Homo sapiens: one gene and its partners. The protein of the gene in region 3 purifies or fractionates together with the protein of the main gene of each other region. This does not show direct contact. Each region holds a gene or a part of one and is shown on either strand. Other genes may lie near its edges.

What was found. Proteins that work in one complex are often made in the same cells at the same time.
Region 1: the proteins of SCAMP5 (region 3) and VAMP4 purify together in Homo sapiens (co-immunoprecipitation; one study listed by IntAct). This does not show direct contact.
Region 2: the proteins of SCAMP5 (region 3) and SNAP23 purify together in Homo sapiens (co-immunoprecipitation; one study listed by IntAct). This does not show direct contact.

Annotation. Positions count from the first base shown.
Region 1 is NC_000001.11:171,707,566-171,711,065, forward strand, and holds part of VAMP4 (vesicle-associated membrane protein 4), read right to left. Parts: intron 3,250-3,500; coding exon 3,149-3,249; intron 2,236-3,148; coding exon of another isoform or gene 2,180-2,235; coding exon 2,100-2,179; intron 1-2,099. UniProt on the Homo sapiens protein: Involved in the pathway that functions to remove an inhibitor (probably synaptotagmin-4) of calcium-triggered exocytosis during the maturation of secretory granules.
Region 2 is NC_000015.10:42,526,634-42,530,095, reverse strand, and holds part of SNAP23 (synaptosomal-associated protein 23), read right to left. Parts: intron 1,835-3,462; coding exon 1,676-1,834; exon of another isoform or gene 1,625-1,675; coding exon of another isoform or gene 1,595-1,624; intron 422-1,594; coding exon 277-421; intron 1-276. UniProt on the Homo sapiens protein: Essential component of the high affinity receptor for the general membrane fusion machinery and an important regulator of transport vesicle docking and fusion.
Region 3 is NC_000015.10:75,012,563-75,016,062, reverse strand, and holds part of SCAMP5 (secretory carrier-associated membrane protein 5), read right to left. Parts: intron 3,387-3,500; coding exon 3,258-3,386; intron 1-3,257. UniProt on the Homo sapiens protein: Required for the calcium-dependent exocytosis of signal sequence-containing cytokines such as CCL5. Probably acts in cooperation with the SNARE machinery.

The DNA of each region.
Region 1 (3,500 bases), on a different chromosome or scaffold from region 3:
GGCTGCCCCAGATGAACAGTAGCACAATGAAGTATTAATGGGGCACAGTAAAACTGAAGGAAGCTAAGCATTAGAAAATAATAAATGAAGAATACTCGCTACTGTAAATGGTGTTTGTTACATTATGGAACAATGATTTTCATTACATGGTCGATGCTATTCATGGTCCCCAGAGGTTCTCAAGGTGATGACTATTTAAAAATATGACTCAATGTTTTTCCTCCTTAAAAGCACGCTATTCCTCTGACCCAAACCCCATAAAGTACAAAGCAAACATTTTTAGCAATGGTTAAAAAAAAAGCTAGGCAAAATGTACATTATGACCATCTTTTTGTGGATACATGAATAGGGTACATGAGTTTGGGAGAGAGAAGGGGTGAGTGGCTCATGGACTTTTTGTTTTTCTAAATTAGCCCACAGAATAGAAAATTTCTATAGATATAGAAGCTTTAGGCAAAGTGTGGTGGCTCATGCCTGTAATCCAGCACTTTGGGAGGCTGAGGTGGGCAGATTGCTCGAGGCCAGAAGTTCAAGACCAGCCTGGCCAACATAGTGAAACCCCGTCTCTACTAAAAATACAAAAATTAGCCAGGTGTGGTGGTGCATGCCTGTAATTCCAGCTACTCGGGAGACTAAGGCAGGAGAATCGCTTGAACCTGGGCTACTTAGGAGGCTGAGGCATGAGAATCACTTGAACCTAGGAGGCAGAGGTTGCAGTGAGCCAAGATTGTGCCACTGCACTCCAGCCTCAGAGACACAGCAAGAGTGCCACAAAAAAAAAAAAAAAAAGACTTTAAAGAAAATAAATTTATTCTTTAAAGAATAAATAACTTAAAATAGAATAGAAAATTTAAATTCTGAACAAGGGGAGAAATGAAACATATTTCTTCCCTCAGTTCCACTTCTGAAAGTAGGACGATTCAATAGGTAGACAAATAAAAATAAATAAATCCAAGGTAACTCTTGGAAAAAATCCTCAGCATATGGCTAAGTCAGGTTTAGAAAGTTATTGCTGGCTGGTGCAGTGGCTCATGCCTGTAATCCCAGCACTTTGGGAGGCCAAGGCAGGTGGATCACCTGAGGTCAGGAGTTCAAGACCAGCCTGACCAACATGGAGAAACCCCGTCTCTACTAAAAAAAAAAAAAACAAAAAAAACAAAATTAGCTGGGCATGGTGGCACATGTCTGTAATTCCAGCTACTCAGGAGGCTGAGGCAGAAGAATCGCTTGAACCCTGGAGGCAGAGGTTGCGGTGATATTGTGGTGAGCCGAGATCAGCCTGGACAACAAGAGCAAAACTCTATCTCAAAGAAAAAAAAAAAAAAAAAAAGGAGAGTTATTGCTAAACTTGAAATTGAAAATGAGAGACTAAAAACAGTGAGTTCATGTCTAAATTTTAAACAAAGCCAAAAATTATAACTAGAATCAGGAGAAAAAAAAAAAAGATTTGCTCATATAACGTGAAAAACATTTTCTGTTAATGATTAGTAGCCACAGTGGATTTAAGAAGTAAATGTATTTCTATACAATGTTTTGCAGGAGTATATATTAGTATGTAGTGATTCCAATGTTTACCTTGTTAAAAATGGTAAAAATTTCTTTTACTTTTTATTTTTCTGGAATAATGAGGGAAGTGGAGTTTTTTCTTAACTCCATTTGTCTTAACAGATTCGGATATGTAAGCTTTTATTTTTTACCCTTTCAACCGAAAGTCATATTTTTCTCTAGCTCCTACTTTTGATATCTCTACATAATGCTATAGAGGTTGCTCCAAAAAAGTATTAATAGTAAATTTCAAGAAAAAATGTATATTTGTTTTAAGTTAATAAGTTTAGAGGTAGTCAAATATTAATAAAATGTGGATTACTTTCATTAAAAAAATCTATGAAAACATCCTTTTAGGCATACTGATTTATTTAGTTATCCCTATCCCAAAAGCAATTAAGTTAACAAGTATTTACTGAATTTCTACCATGTCTCAGGACAGTTATAGGCCCTGTTCTCACAGAGGTTATGCTCTAGAGGCCCTTTTTTCTTCATGTGTTTGAATACCACTTCAGATGCTGACCAGTCTATCCAGTAGCTTCTGATTTACTTACTTTGCATCCACGCCACCACATTTGCCTTCGAAGTTGTTTGGATCTGTTGCTAAAAGCTGTTGCATTATCCGATAAGCTTTCTATATCACATAGAGGATGGAGAGAAGGATTAAACGACATAACAGGATTCTTTTATCTAGTCACACAAAGATAAGAAAATATTAATTTCTACTTCTGCAAATTTATTCCCTTTTAAGCATGAAAACAGCATTCTCCCTTTTTTCCACCCACAAACTCTGGCATTCTACATTATTAAAAAAATGAAAACAAAAAGCAAAAAACAGCTTGCAGATCAGTTTGCTCACTTCTTTTTTATTATAAAATTAAGAAAAGTCTTTTTAGGGCCTTAATGCTTATAAATAAACTTAGGAAATCTAGTAAGAAAAATACTCTTTAAAAATTCAAATACTTGGCACACCTCTAGAAAAAAAATTACATGTTGAGAAGTTAGCTTCTTAGAAGATATCAAAAGTGACTGATTTTAAAGGAAAACAATATACATTTTAAATGTGACTAAGCGAGGTGTTTTTTTTTTTTCTAAAGTCTGTCAAAGATTAATCAGGTATTCAGCCATTCACCAAACAATATTTGAGTGGCAAGTACGTGCCAGGTATAGGTATAGGTATAGGTATAGGTTATAGGTGTAATGACTGAAAGTAAAGAAAGGTGACTAAGTTACCAAATAAAACATAAAATAAAAATAGCAGATAAGTTTGAAACAAGTGTTGAAAAGTGAGTAGGTCTTTAGGCCCTGAGATCATGAGAAACACAAAGTTCATCAATATCACAGGGCAAAAGAAAAAACAGCTCTACTCTTCACTCTTCAACAATGAAATTTTAAATTCTTCATTCTCCACTGAACAATTAAAAAATAATGAAACAATAAGATGACTCAAAGTAAAGGAGTTAAAATTAAACCATTAAAATCATATACTTAAGAACCAAATGCCAATTTCCTAAGCCAAGATTTGTAAACGTTGGCTAGACAAGTAGAAGACAAAAACTAGCAAACAGATTAGTAATATCAAGAAATACATGAAGATCTGTACCTGATTTGTCCTGTAGTTCATCTAGTCTCTCCCCTCTCTCAATTACCTTTGTAATATTTTCTTGCATGACATCAATAACTTCATCCACTTGATTCTGAACACTAGTTTAAAAAAGATACACAATTATTTATCCTTCTTTTGAGAATGCTTACAATTTTTAAAACTTTCATTAGACATAATAAAGAATAGCAAATTCTCAGAGAATTATTCAACTATAAAATTTAAATTTAAGACTTTGTAGCAATGTTCTTCCATTTGTGGGCTTCAGTACTCAGATAATGAAAGACAATATGATATAAATTAAAGTAATATTTAAAGATAGCTTACTTTTAGCCCTGCTTCTGACTTGTAA
Region 2 (3,462 bases), about 32 Mb from region 3:
ACACGCTCAAAAGCTAAAGTAGATACTAAGCTTCATGTGTGAAGGTTTAAGTAAAACTACTATATTCCAAAACTCTGGTTTCAAAATGCACCAACTACCATGACAGGGAGGACTTGGCTCTTGTTTTATGTGTTAGAACCACCACCTCATCAGAATTAAGACCTATGAGGACAGGAGCTTATTCTACCGTGTCCCCCACAGTATCTAGCACAGATGTCTATTACTGAAACACTGAACTGGGTGTCTCATTTTCTTGTGGCAATAAAAAGCTTTTACCTTGTCTGTGATTCGTTTTATTTGTGGATTTTGAGCATCAATCTCATTGCCTATGTTCAGGGCCATGTCTTTTAGATTTCCCAGGATACTGCCCACTTGAGTCAGGTTCTCTTCCATTTCATCTTCTCTGGCATCATTAGTTATGCTATCACAAGAAGACAGTTAATTCCATAGGTTTTGTTGAATTTAAATAAAAGTCTGGATTTACTTTTCACAAAAGTAAGTAACCAAAATGACTCTCAGCAAGTATAAGATCCAAAAGAATATAGGTTACCATTCCTGGGAAACATTCTATAATAAAAACTGGGAGACTCATCAAAGAGAGCACAGTATCTTAAAGCCATGTAAGAAAAGAAAGAAACTCTGAAACAGTGTTTCTCAAAGCTTAATTCCCAGCATCACCTGGGAAGCTGTTAGACATGAGAATGCTAATTCTCACACTCCATTCCAGACCTACTCAATCAGAAACTGTAAGTGCATCCCAGAAACCTACGGTTTAATAAGCCCCTCAAGTGGTTCTAATGCACAGTTAAGTCTATCTAAAGAAGCACTGCCCTAAGAGAGAGGTTGGAAAACTACGGCCCAAGGACCAAATCTGGCCACCATATGATTTTGTAAATCAAGTGTTATTCAAACACAGCTGTGCTCATTTGTTTACATATTGTTTATGCCTGCTTTAACCCTACAACAGAGTTGAGTAATTGCAAGGGACTGTATGGCCTGAAAAGTCTGAAATATTAACTCTCTGGCTCGTTACAGATCTTCTTACAGGAATCTAGCTGACCCTTGTTCTAGATGACACATTTTAAAACCTATTTTTTTCTATATATAAAAGTAAAATATGTCTAGTTCAATAATTTGGAAAGTACTGAAAAGTATAAAGAAAAGTTAATTCCATCACCCAAGGTCAACCACCACAGTCAACATTTTGTCTGGCCAGGTGTGGTAGCTTATGCCTGTAATCCCAGCACTTTGGGAGGCCGAGGCAGGTGGATCACCTGAGGTCAGGAGTCCAAGACCAGCCTGGTCAACATGGTGAAACCCTGTCTCTACTAAAAATACAAAAATTAGCTGGGCGTGGTGGCGCACACCTGTAGTCCCAGCTACTCGGAAGGCTGAGGCAGGAGAATAACTTGAACCTGGGAGGCAGAGGTTGCAGTGAGCTGAGATCACGCCACTGCACTCCAGCCTGGGCAACACAGCAAGACTCTGTCTCAAAACAAAACAACAAATAAAAAAAACCCACATTTTGTCAGTGGGCAGATTTTTAAATGCATTTTAAAAATGGAATAAATACAATTTTTATTTGTTTTATTAGGGGTCATGTACTGCTAAACTCATCTCCTAAGTGAACCATTCATTAAGAAAGGTACAGGAATATCAGGAGGAGTTGGCATACCGTTTAATGTATCCACCACTGGCTGCTCCCGTTGTTGGTTGCTGAAGCTGACCATTTGTCACCGGGCCTGGCTGTTTAGATACTACATTGCAAGGTGAGTTTTCTCCACCATCTCCCCATGTTGTCTTATAAGCCTTGCCAGACTCAAAGTTCTTTGTTCTATATAAGAGTCAGGAGTGTAGGGAGATACCAAAAAAAAGAAGACGGAGAGTTCTAATTATTAGTGCCTGTTACCTTGAGGATGACACTAATAACTCTAGTAGAAAAGCTGCATACAGCTAAGTCTAGATGATCTACACTATGCTCCATGGCAATATGGAATAGGAAATAGATGAATTATGTAAACCCATTGACACTAAAAAAAATTTTAAAAAGGTCCAAATACTACTTCTACCAAATCTTCACTAGGCTGTTAGCAAGTAGCAAAAGGCAACTATTTGATTTTTCAGGTTCCCTTAGCCTCTGGCACTATCGTTTTGCTTTTCTCTTCCTAGTGTATCCAGCACTATCTAGAAAAGAGGTTAATGCACATTACTTAAAAAAAGGTCCCTTAGAAAAGGTGTTCTGGGATACCTTAAGAGGTTCCTTGAAGGCATCTCAGAGGTTGACAAGGGATGACAGAATAAGAAGGCTGATGCTGGGTGCAGTGGCTCACGCCTGTACTCCCAGCACTTTGGGAGGCCAAGGCGGGTGGATCGCTTGAGCTCAGGAGTTTAAGATCAGCCAGGGCAACACAGCAAAAACCCATCTCTCAAACTCCTGACCTCAAGTGATCCATCCACCTCGGCCTCCCAAAGTGCTGGGACTACAGGCTCGTGAGCCACTGCTCCCTGCCTCAAAATGCCATCTCTATAAAAAAATACAAACATTAGCTGGGTGTGGTGGCACACGCCTGTGGTCCCAGCTACTCGAGAGGCTGAGGTGGGAGGACTGCTTGAGCCCAGAAGGTCGAGGCTGCAGTGAGCCATGATAGTGCCACTGCACTCCAGCCTGGGTGACAGAGTGAGACCTAATCTTAAATAAATAAATAAAATTTTAAAATAAGAAGACTGAATTTGAACCAGCGTAGTTCCAGCTGATCAGTTTTTATTAGAATTTTCCATGAAATTTTAAACAATGGTTTCTTACAAACAAACCAGCCATCAGGAAAGAAAGGCATGAATAATTTCCAAATTGGACAATCAGCGGACAAATAAGTACCTTGACCACACAAGCGGTCATTCATAAATCCTGTAGTGTAGGAGTTTTTCATTTAAGAGTTTCCTCTTTAAAAAAACGATCAAGGCCGGGCACAGTAGCTCACACCGGTAATCCCAGCACTTTGGGAGGCCAAGGTGGGTGGATCACCTGAGGTCAGGAGTTCAAGACCAGCCTGGGCAACATGGTGAAACCCCATCTCTACTAAAAATACAAAAATTAGCTGGGTGTGGCACCACGTGCCTATAATCCCAGCTACTGGGGAGGCTGAGGCAGGAGAATCGCTTGAACCCAGGAGGCGGAGGTTGCAAGGAGCCAAGATCACACCACTGCACTCCAGCCTGGGCAACAGAGCGAGACACTCCATCTCAAAAAAAAAAAAAAATCATAAGTCTAAGTGTCTTAAAAAGAAAGAAAAAGTGGCTATTACAGGGAAAAAAAAATGGCTGTTACGGAAAAGTGACACAAAACTTTTCTTGATTATTTGGCTAAAGTCAAGCTTTCATTCAATTTTAGTTTTCACTTTTCTATAAACAAAAACGAAATAGTATGTTGCTCAAATATTGATCTCTGATTTATTCTACATTTTA
Region 3 (3,500 bases):
AGGGAAAAATAAAAGGCCTTGTGGAAACATCTCTTCTAGCCATTGTGCCATCTACCTTGCACTTAAATGGGGCAGGCATTGGCGGCTGGAATCTCAGTCTTTATCTAATCTATTTCTTTTTTTTTTTTTTTTTTTTTGAGATGGAATTTCACTCTGTCGCCCAGGCTGGAGTGCAGTGGCGCGATCTCAGCTCACTGCAACCTCCACTTCTCAGGTTCAAGCGATTCTCCTGCTTCAGCCTCCTGAGTAGCTGGGATTACAGGTGCCTGCCATCACGCCCAGCTAATTTTTGTATTTTTAGCAGAGATGGTTTTTCGCCAAGTTGGCCAGGCTGGTCTCGAACTCCTGACCTCAGGTGATCCACCCGCCTTGGCCTCCCACAGTGCCGGATTATAGGTGTGAGTCACAGTGCCCAGCTATCTAATCTATTTCTTAGATAACACTCATGCCAGCTCCTTGAAGAAGTCTTCCTTTGCTACTGCAACCTCATCATCTCCCATCCCTCTGACCTTCTACAGACCTGGGCTGCTCTCAAGGTTCCCCAGATATAAATCCCAGCCCATCAACCAGACTAAAAGTTCCCCAAGAACAGGACCCAGGCCCCCCCCCCTCTGTCCCCACCTCATCTAGCTGAACTAGGAGGCACAGTGTCACTGAGTCACGGCCAGCAGGGACCTCAAAGATTTACAGATAAAAGTGATGCTGGTACTAACACACATGCGGGTCTGTGCAGCACATCATTATCTAACATCAGGGCACTCCCTTCCTTGAAAACAAAGCTAAGTCCACAAAGACCTGCTGAATAAACAAAGGAAGGAGGGCTCAACCGTGGCCTCAAACAGCCAGGCATCTGTGGTCCTGTCTTCTGAATAGAACCCTTAAGCACCTCAAGGGTTATATACATTTCCTTGGGAGTAAAGCACCTGCGGGTGCCTAGTGAGGACTTAAGGAGATATTTATAGCCCTTAAATCCAGCTTCTGGATGAGATGTTCCCAGAAGTTGAGTTCCCAGAGCCCAGGTCAGACACAGTGACCTACAAGCCTGGCCTGACCACCGTGTCACCCATCTCAGGGCCCCTCATGGGTGGGCATTTCTTCCTGTACATTTCAGCTGTATTTCCTCTATCCCTGTTCATTGCCCCAAAATCTCCTGGAGGCTTGGTGTTAAAACTGATTTTATTTGCTCTTTATATAGAAAAGACACTAACCTATTATATTGGTTCACATCTCTCCCCAGTCCAACCTGCCCCAGCTCCCTTGCTCAAACACCTCTGCTGCAATTATTCTGCTTCCTCTCTGGAATGGATACCCATGAGCTCAGCCCCTCTCTCTCTCTAGCCATCAGCTTCTTTCTGTCTTCACTCTTCTCCTTATCCAGCTTAGATTCCATAATTCATTACTCATTTTCTTATTCCCTCCCCTGCCCTGCCTTCTGGCCACACTCACCCTAGATGAACATAATTCTCATCTGTACCTGAGCTGAATGTTGCTAAGAAAAAAGGGGACCCCATGAGGAAGACTGTAAATTCACATCAGCCAATGTCAAATGAACCTTGTGTGTGGCCCAGAAATCTTAGGGGCCGGGTTTCTTTGGAGAGTGTCCTCACTATCCGTCGACAAACATGGCCTCGTTGTGAGCCCACTCTCCACACTACATCATATTTGATGGAAAAAATGGAAGCCATCAGAGGTAACTTCTTCATTTGCTTCCCAACATCTACAGACTTACCCACACCTGTCCCATCCCCCCTTCTCTCAGGTTACATGGTGGGAGATCCCTTCTTCACTCAAAGGCCAAGCCAGGCCTTGAAACTGAGTCTGTCTGCCCCATCCTCTTCCTACCATGCCATGAGGGACCTGCTGCAAAGACAGTATATTTTACCACCTTGTCGGCACATGCAAGCATCTGCCCAGGTAGGCAGCTAAGTGCAGGCCTCACTCAGGGCAGTGTCACATATAGCAGAACCCAACTGCAGTTACATTGCGGGTATCTTGGGATCCTGGGGCTCACACCCAGCACAGGATAGCCAGCTTGCCTCCCCCTCACATGCCTAAGAGGTACCTTCTAACTAGCCTCAGCACAGCCAAGTCCCATCCCCCCAAGAAGACACCTTTCCCACCCCCTGCTACAGATCACCAGAAATGAGGCCTTTACACTCTCAGCCTTAAAACCTTAGAACATTGATGCTAAGGTTTTCTAAATAAAGAATTCTAGATTATTTAATTATTTTTTTAGAGGCAGGCTCTTACTCTGTCACCCAGGGTGGAGTGCAGTAGCATGATCATAGCTCACTGCAGCCTTGAACTCCTGGGCTCAAGTGATCCTCCCACCTTAGTCCCCTGAGTAGCTAGGACTACAGGCATGTGCCACTATTCCCAGCTAGTTTTTTTAAAGAGATGGGGTATTGCTATGTTGCCCATACTGGTCTCAAACTCCTAGGCTCATTGGATCCTCCTGCCTTGGCCTCCTGAATAGCTGGGACTACAAGTGTGAGCCACCACACAGGCCTAATTTTTTTATTTTCTGTAGAGACAGGGGTCTTGCTGTGTTGCCTAGGCTGGTCTTAAACTCCTTACCTCAAGTGATCCTCCTGGCTCAGCCTCCCAAAGTGCCGGGATCACAGGTGTGAACCACTGTGCCTGACATTAGACTCTTACAGGTATAGACCACCCAACACAGAGCTGCATGGAACCACAGCAATCGCCAAGCCAATACTTTCTTCCTACAAATGAGGAACCTGCTGCTTGGCAAGCACAGTGACCAGGCAAACTTGATCCCACAGCTCCCAACTCCCAGCTGAATCCTCCTCTCTTTGAGCAATCTTCCAGAGAAAGCAAGACAAATAAGGCTTTGAGGGAAGGATTCCTCTCCAAATCCAGAATCCTGAGGTCCTGACAGTCCCCAGAGGTTCCCTGGAAAGTTACTCCAGTGGAAGGGAAAGGGGAAGCAAGAAGACAGGGATTACACTGCAGAGAGGGACCCCTGTCCAGATGCTCTGTGAAAGGAGGGTGGAGGGGAAGGAAGGGAAGAGAGGCCTAGATGGGGGAGGTTGAGGGAAACTGAGGCCCAGTCGGGGAGGTGGCCCATGGAAGAAGCCTCTGGGAGCCTGGCAGGGGAAGACTTATGGTCCATGCATATGCCACAAGTGGGACTGAAGGACAGTCAGGCCTGTGGGCACCCCACCCCGCTGCCCAGCACGCCCAGTCTTCCTGCCTCCTCCAGCCACCCTGGCCCACCCCCATCCCATGGCACTCACACATCCAGAGGTAGTAGAGGCGCTTGGTCATGCTGACATGCTGGGGAGGAATATCTGCCTCGAAGTCTTGGTAGAAACATGGCTTCAGCGGGATGAATTTGGGCAATGGTGGGAAGTTGTTCACTTTCTCTGTGGATGAGACACATTGCACAACATCACCTCCAGTCTTCCACCCGACAATCCAAGACGCCCATCCTTCCCCTGGCTGTGCTGCCCCATTGGCCCCTGTGGCCACCGGCCACT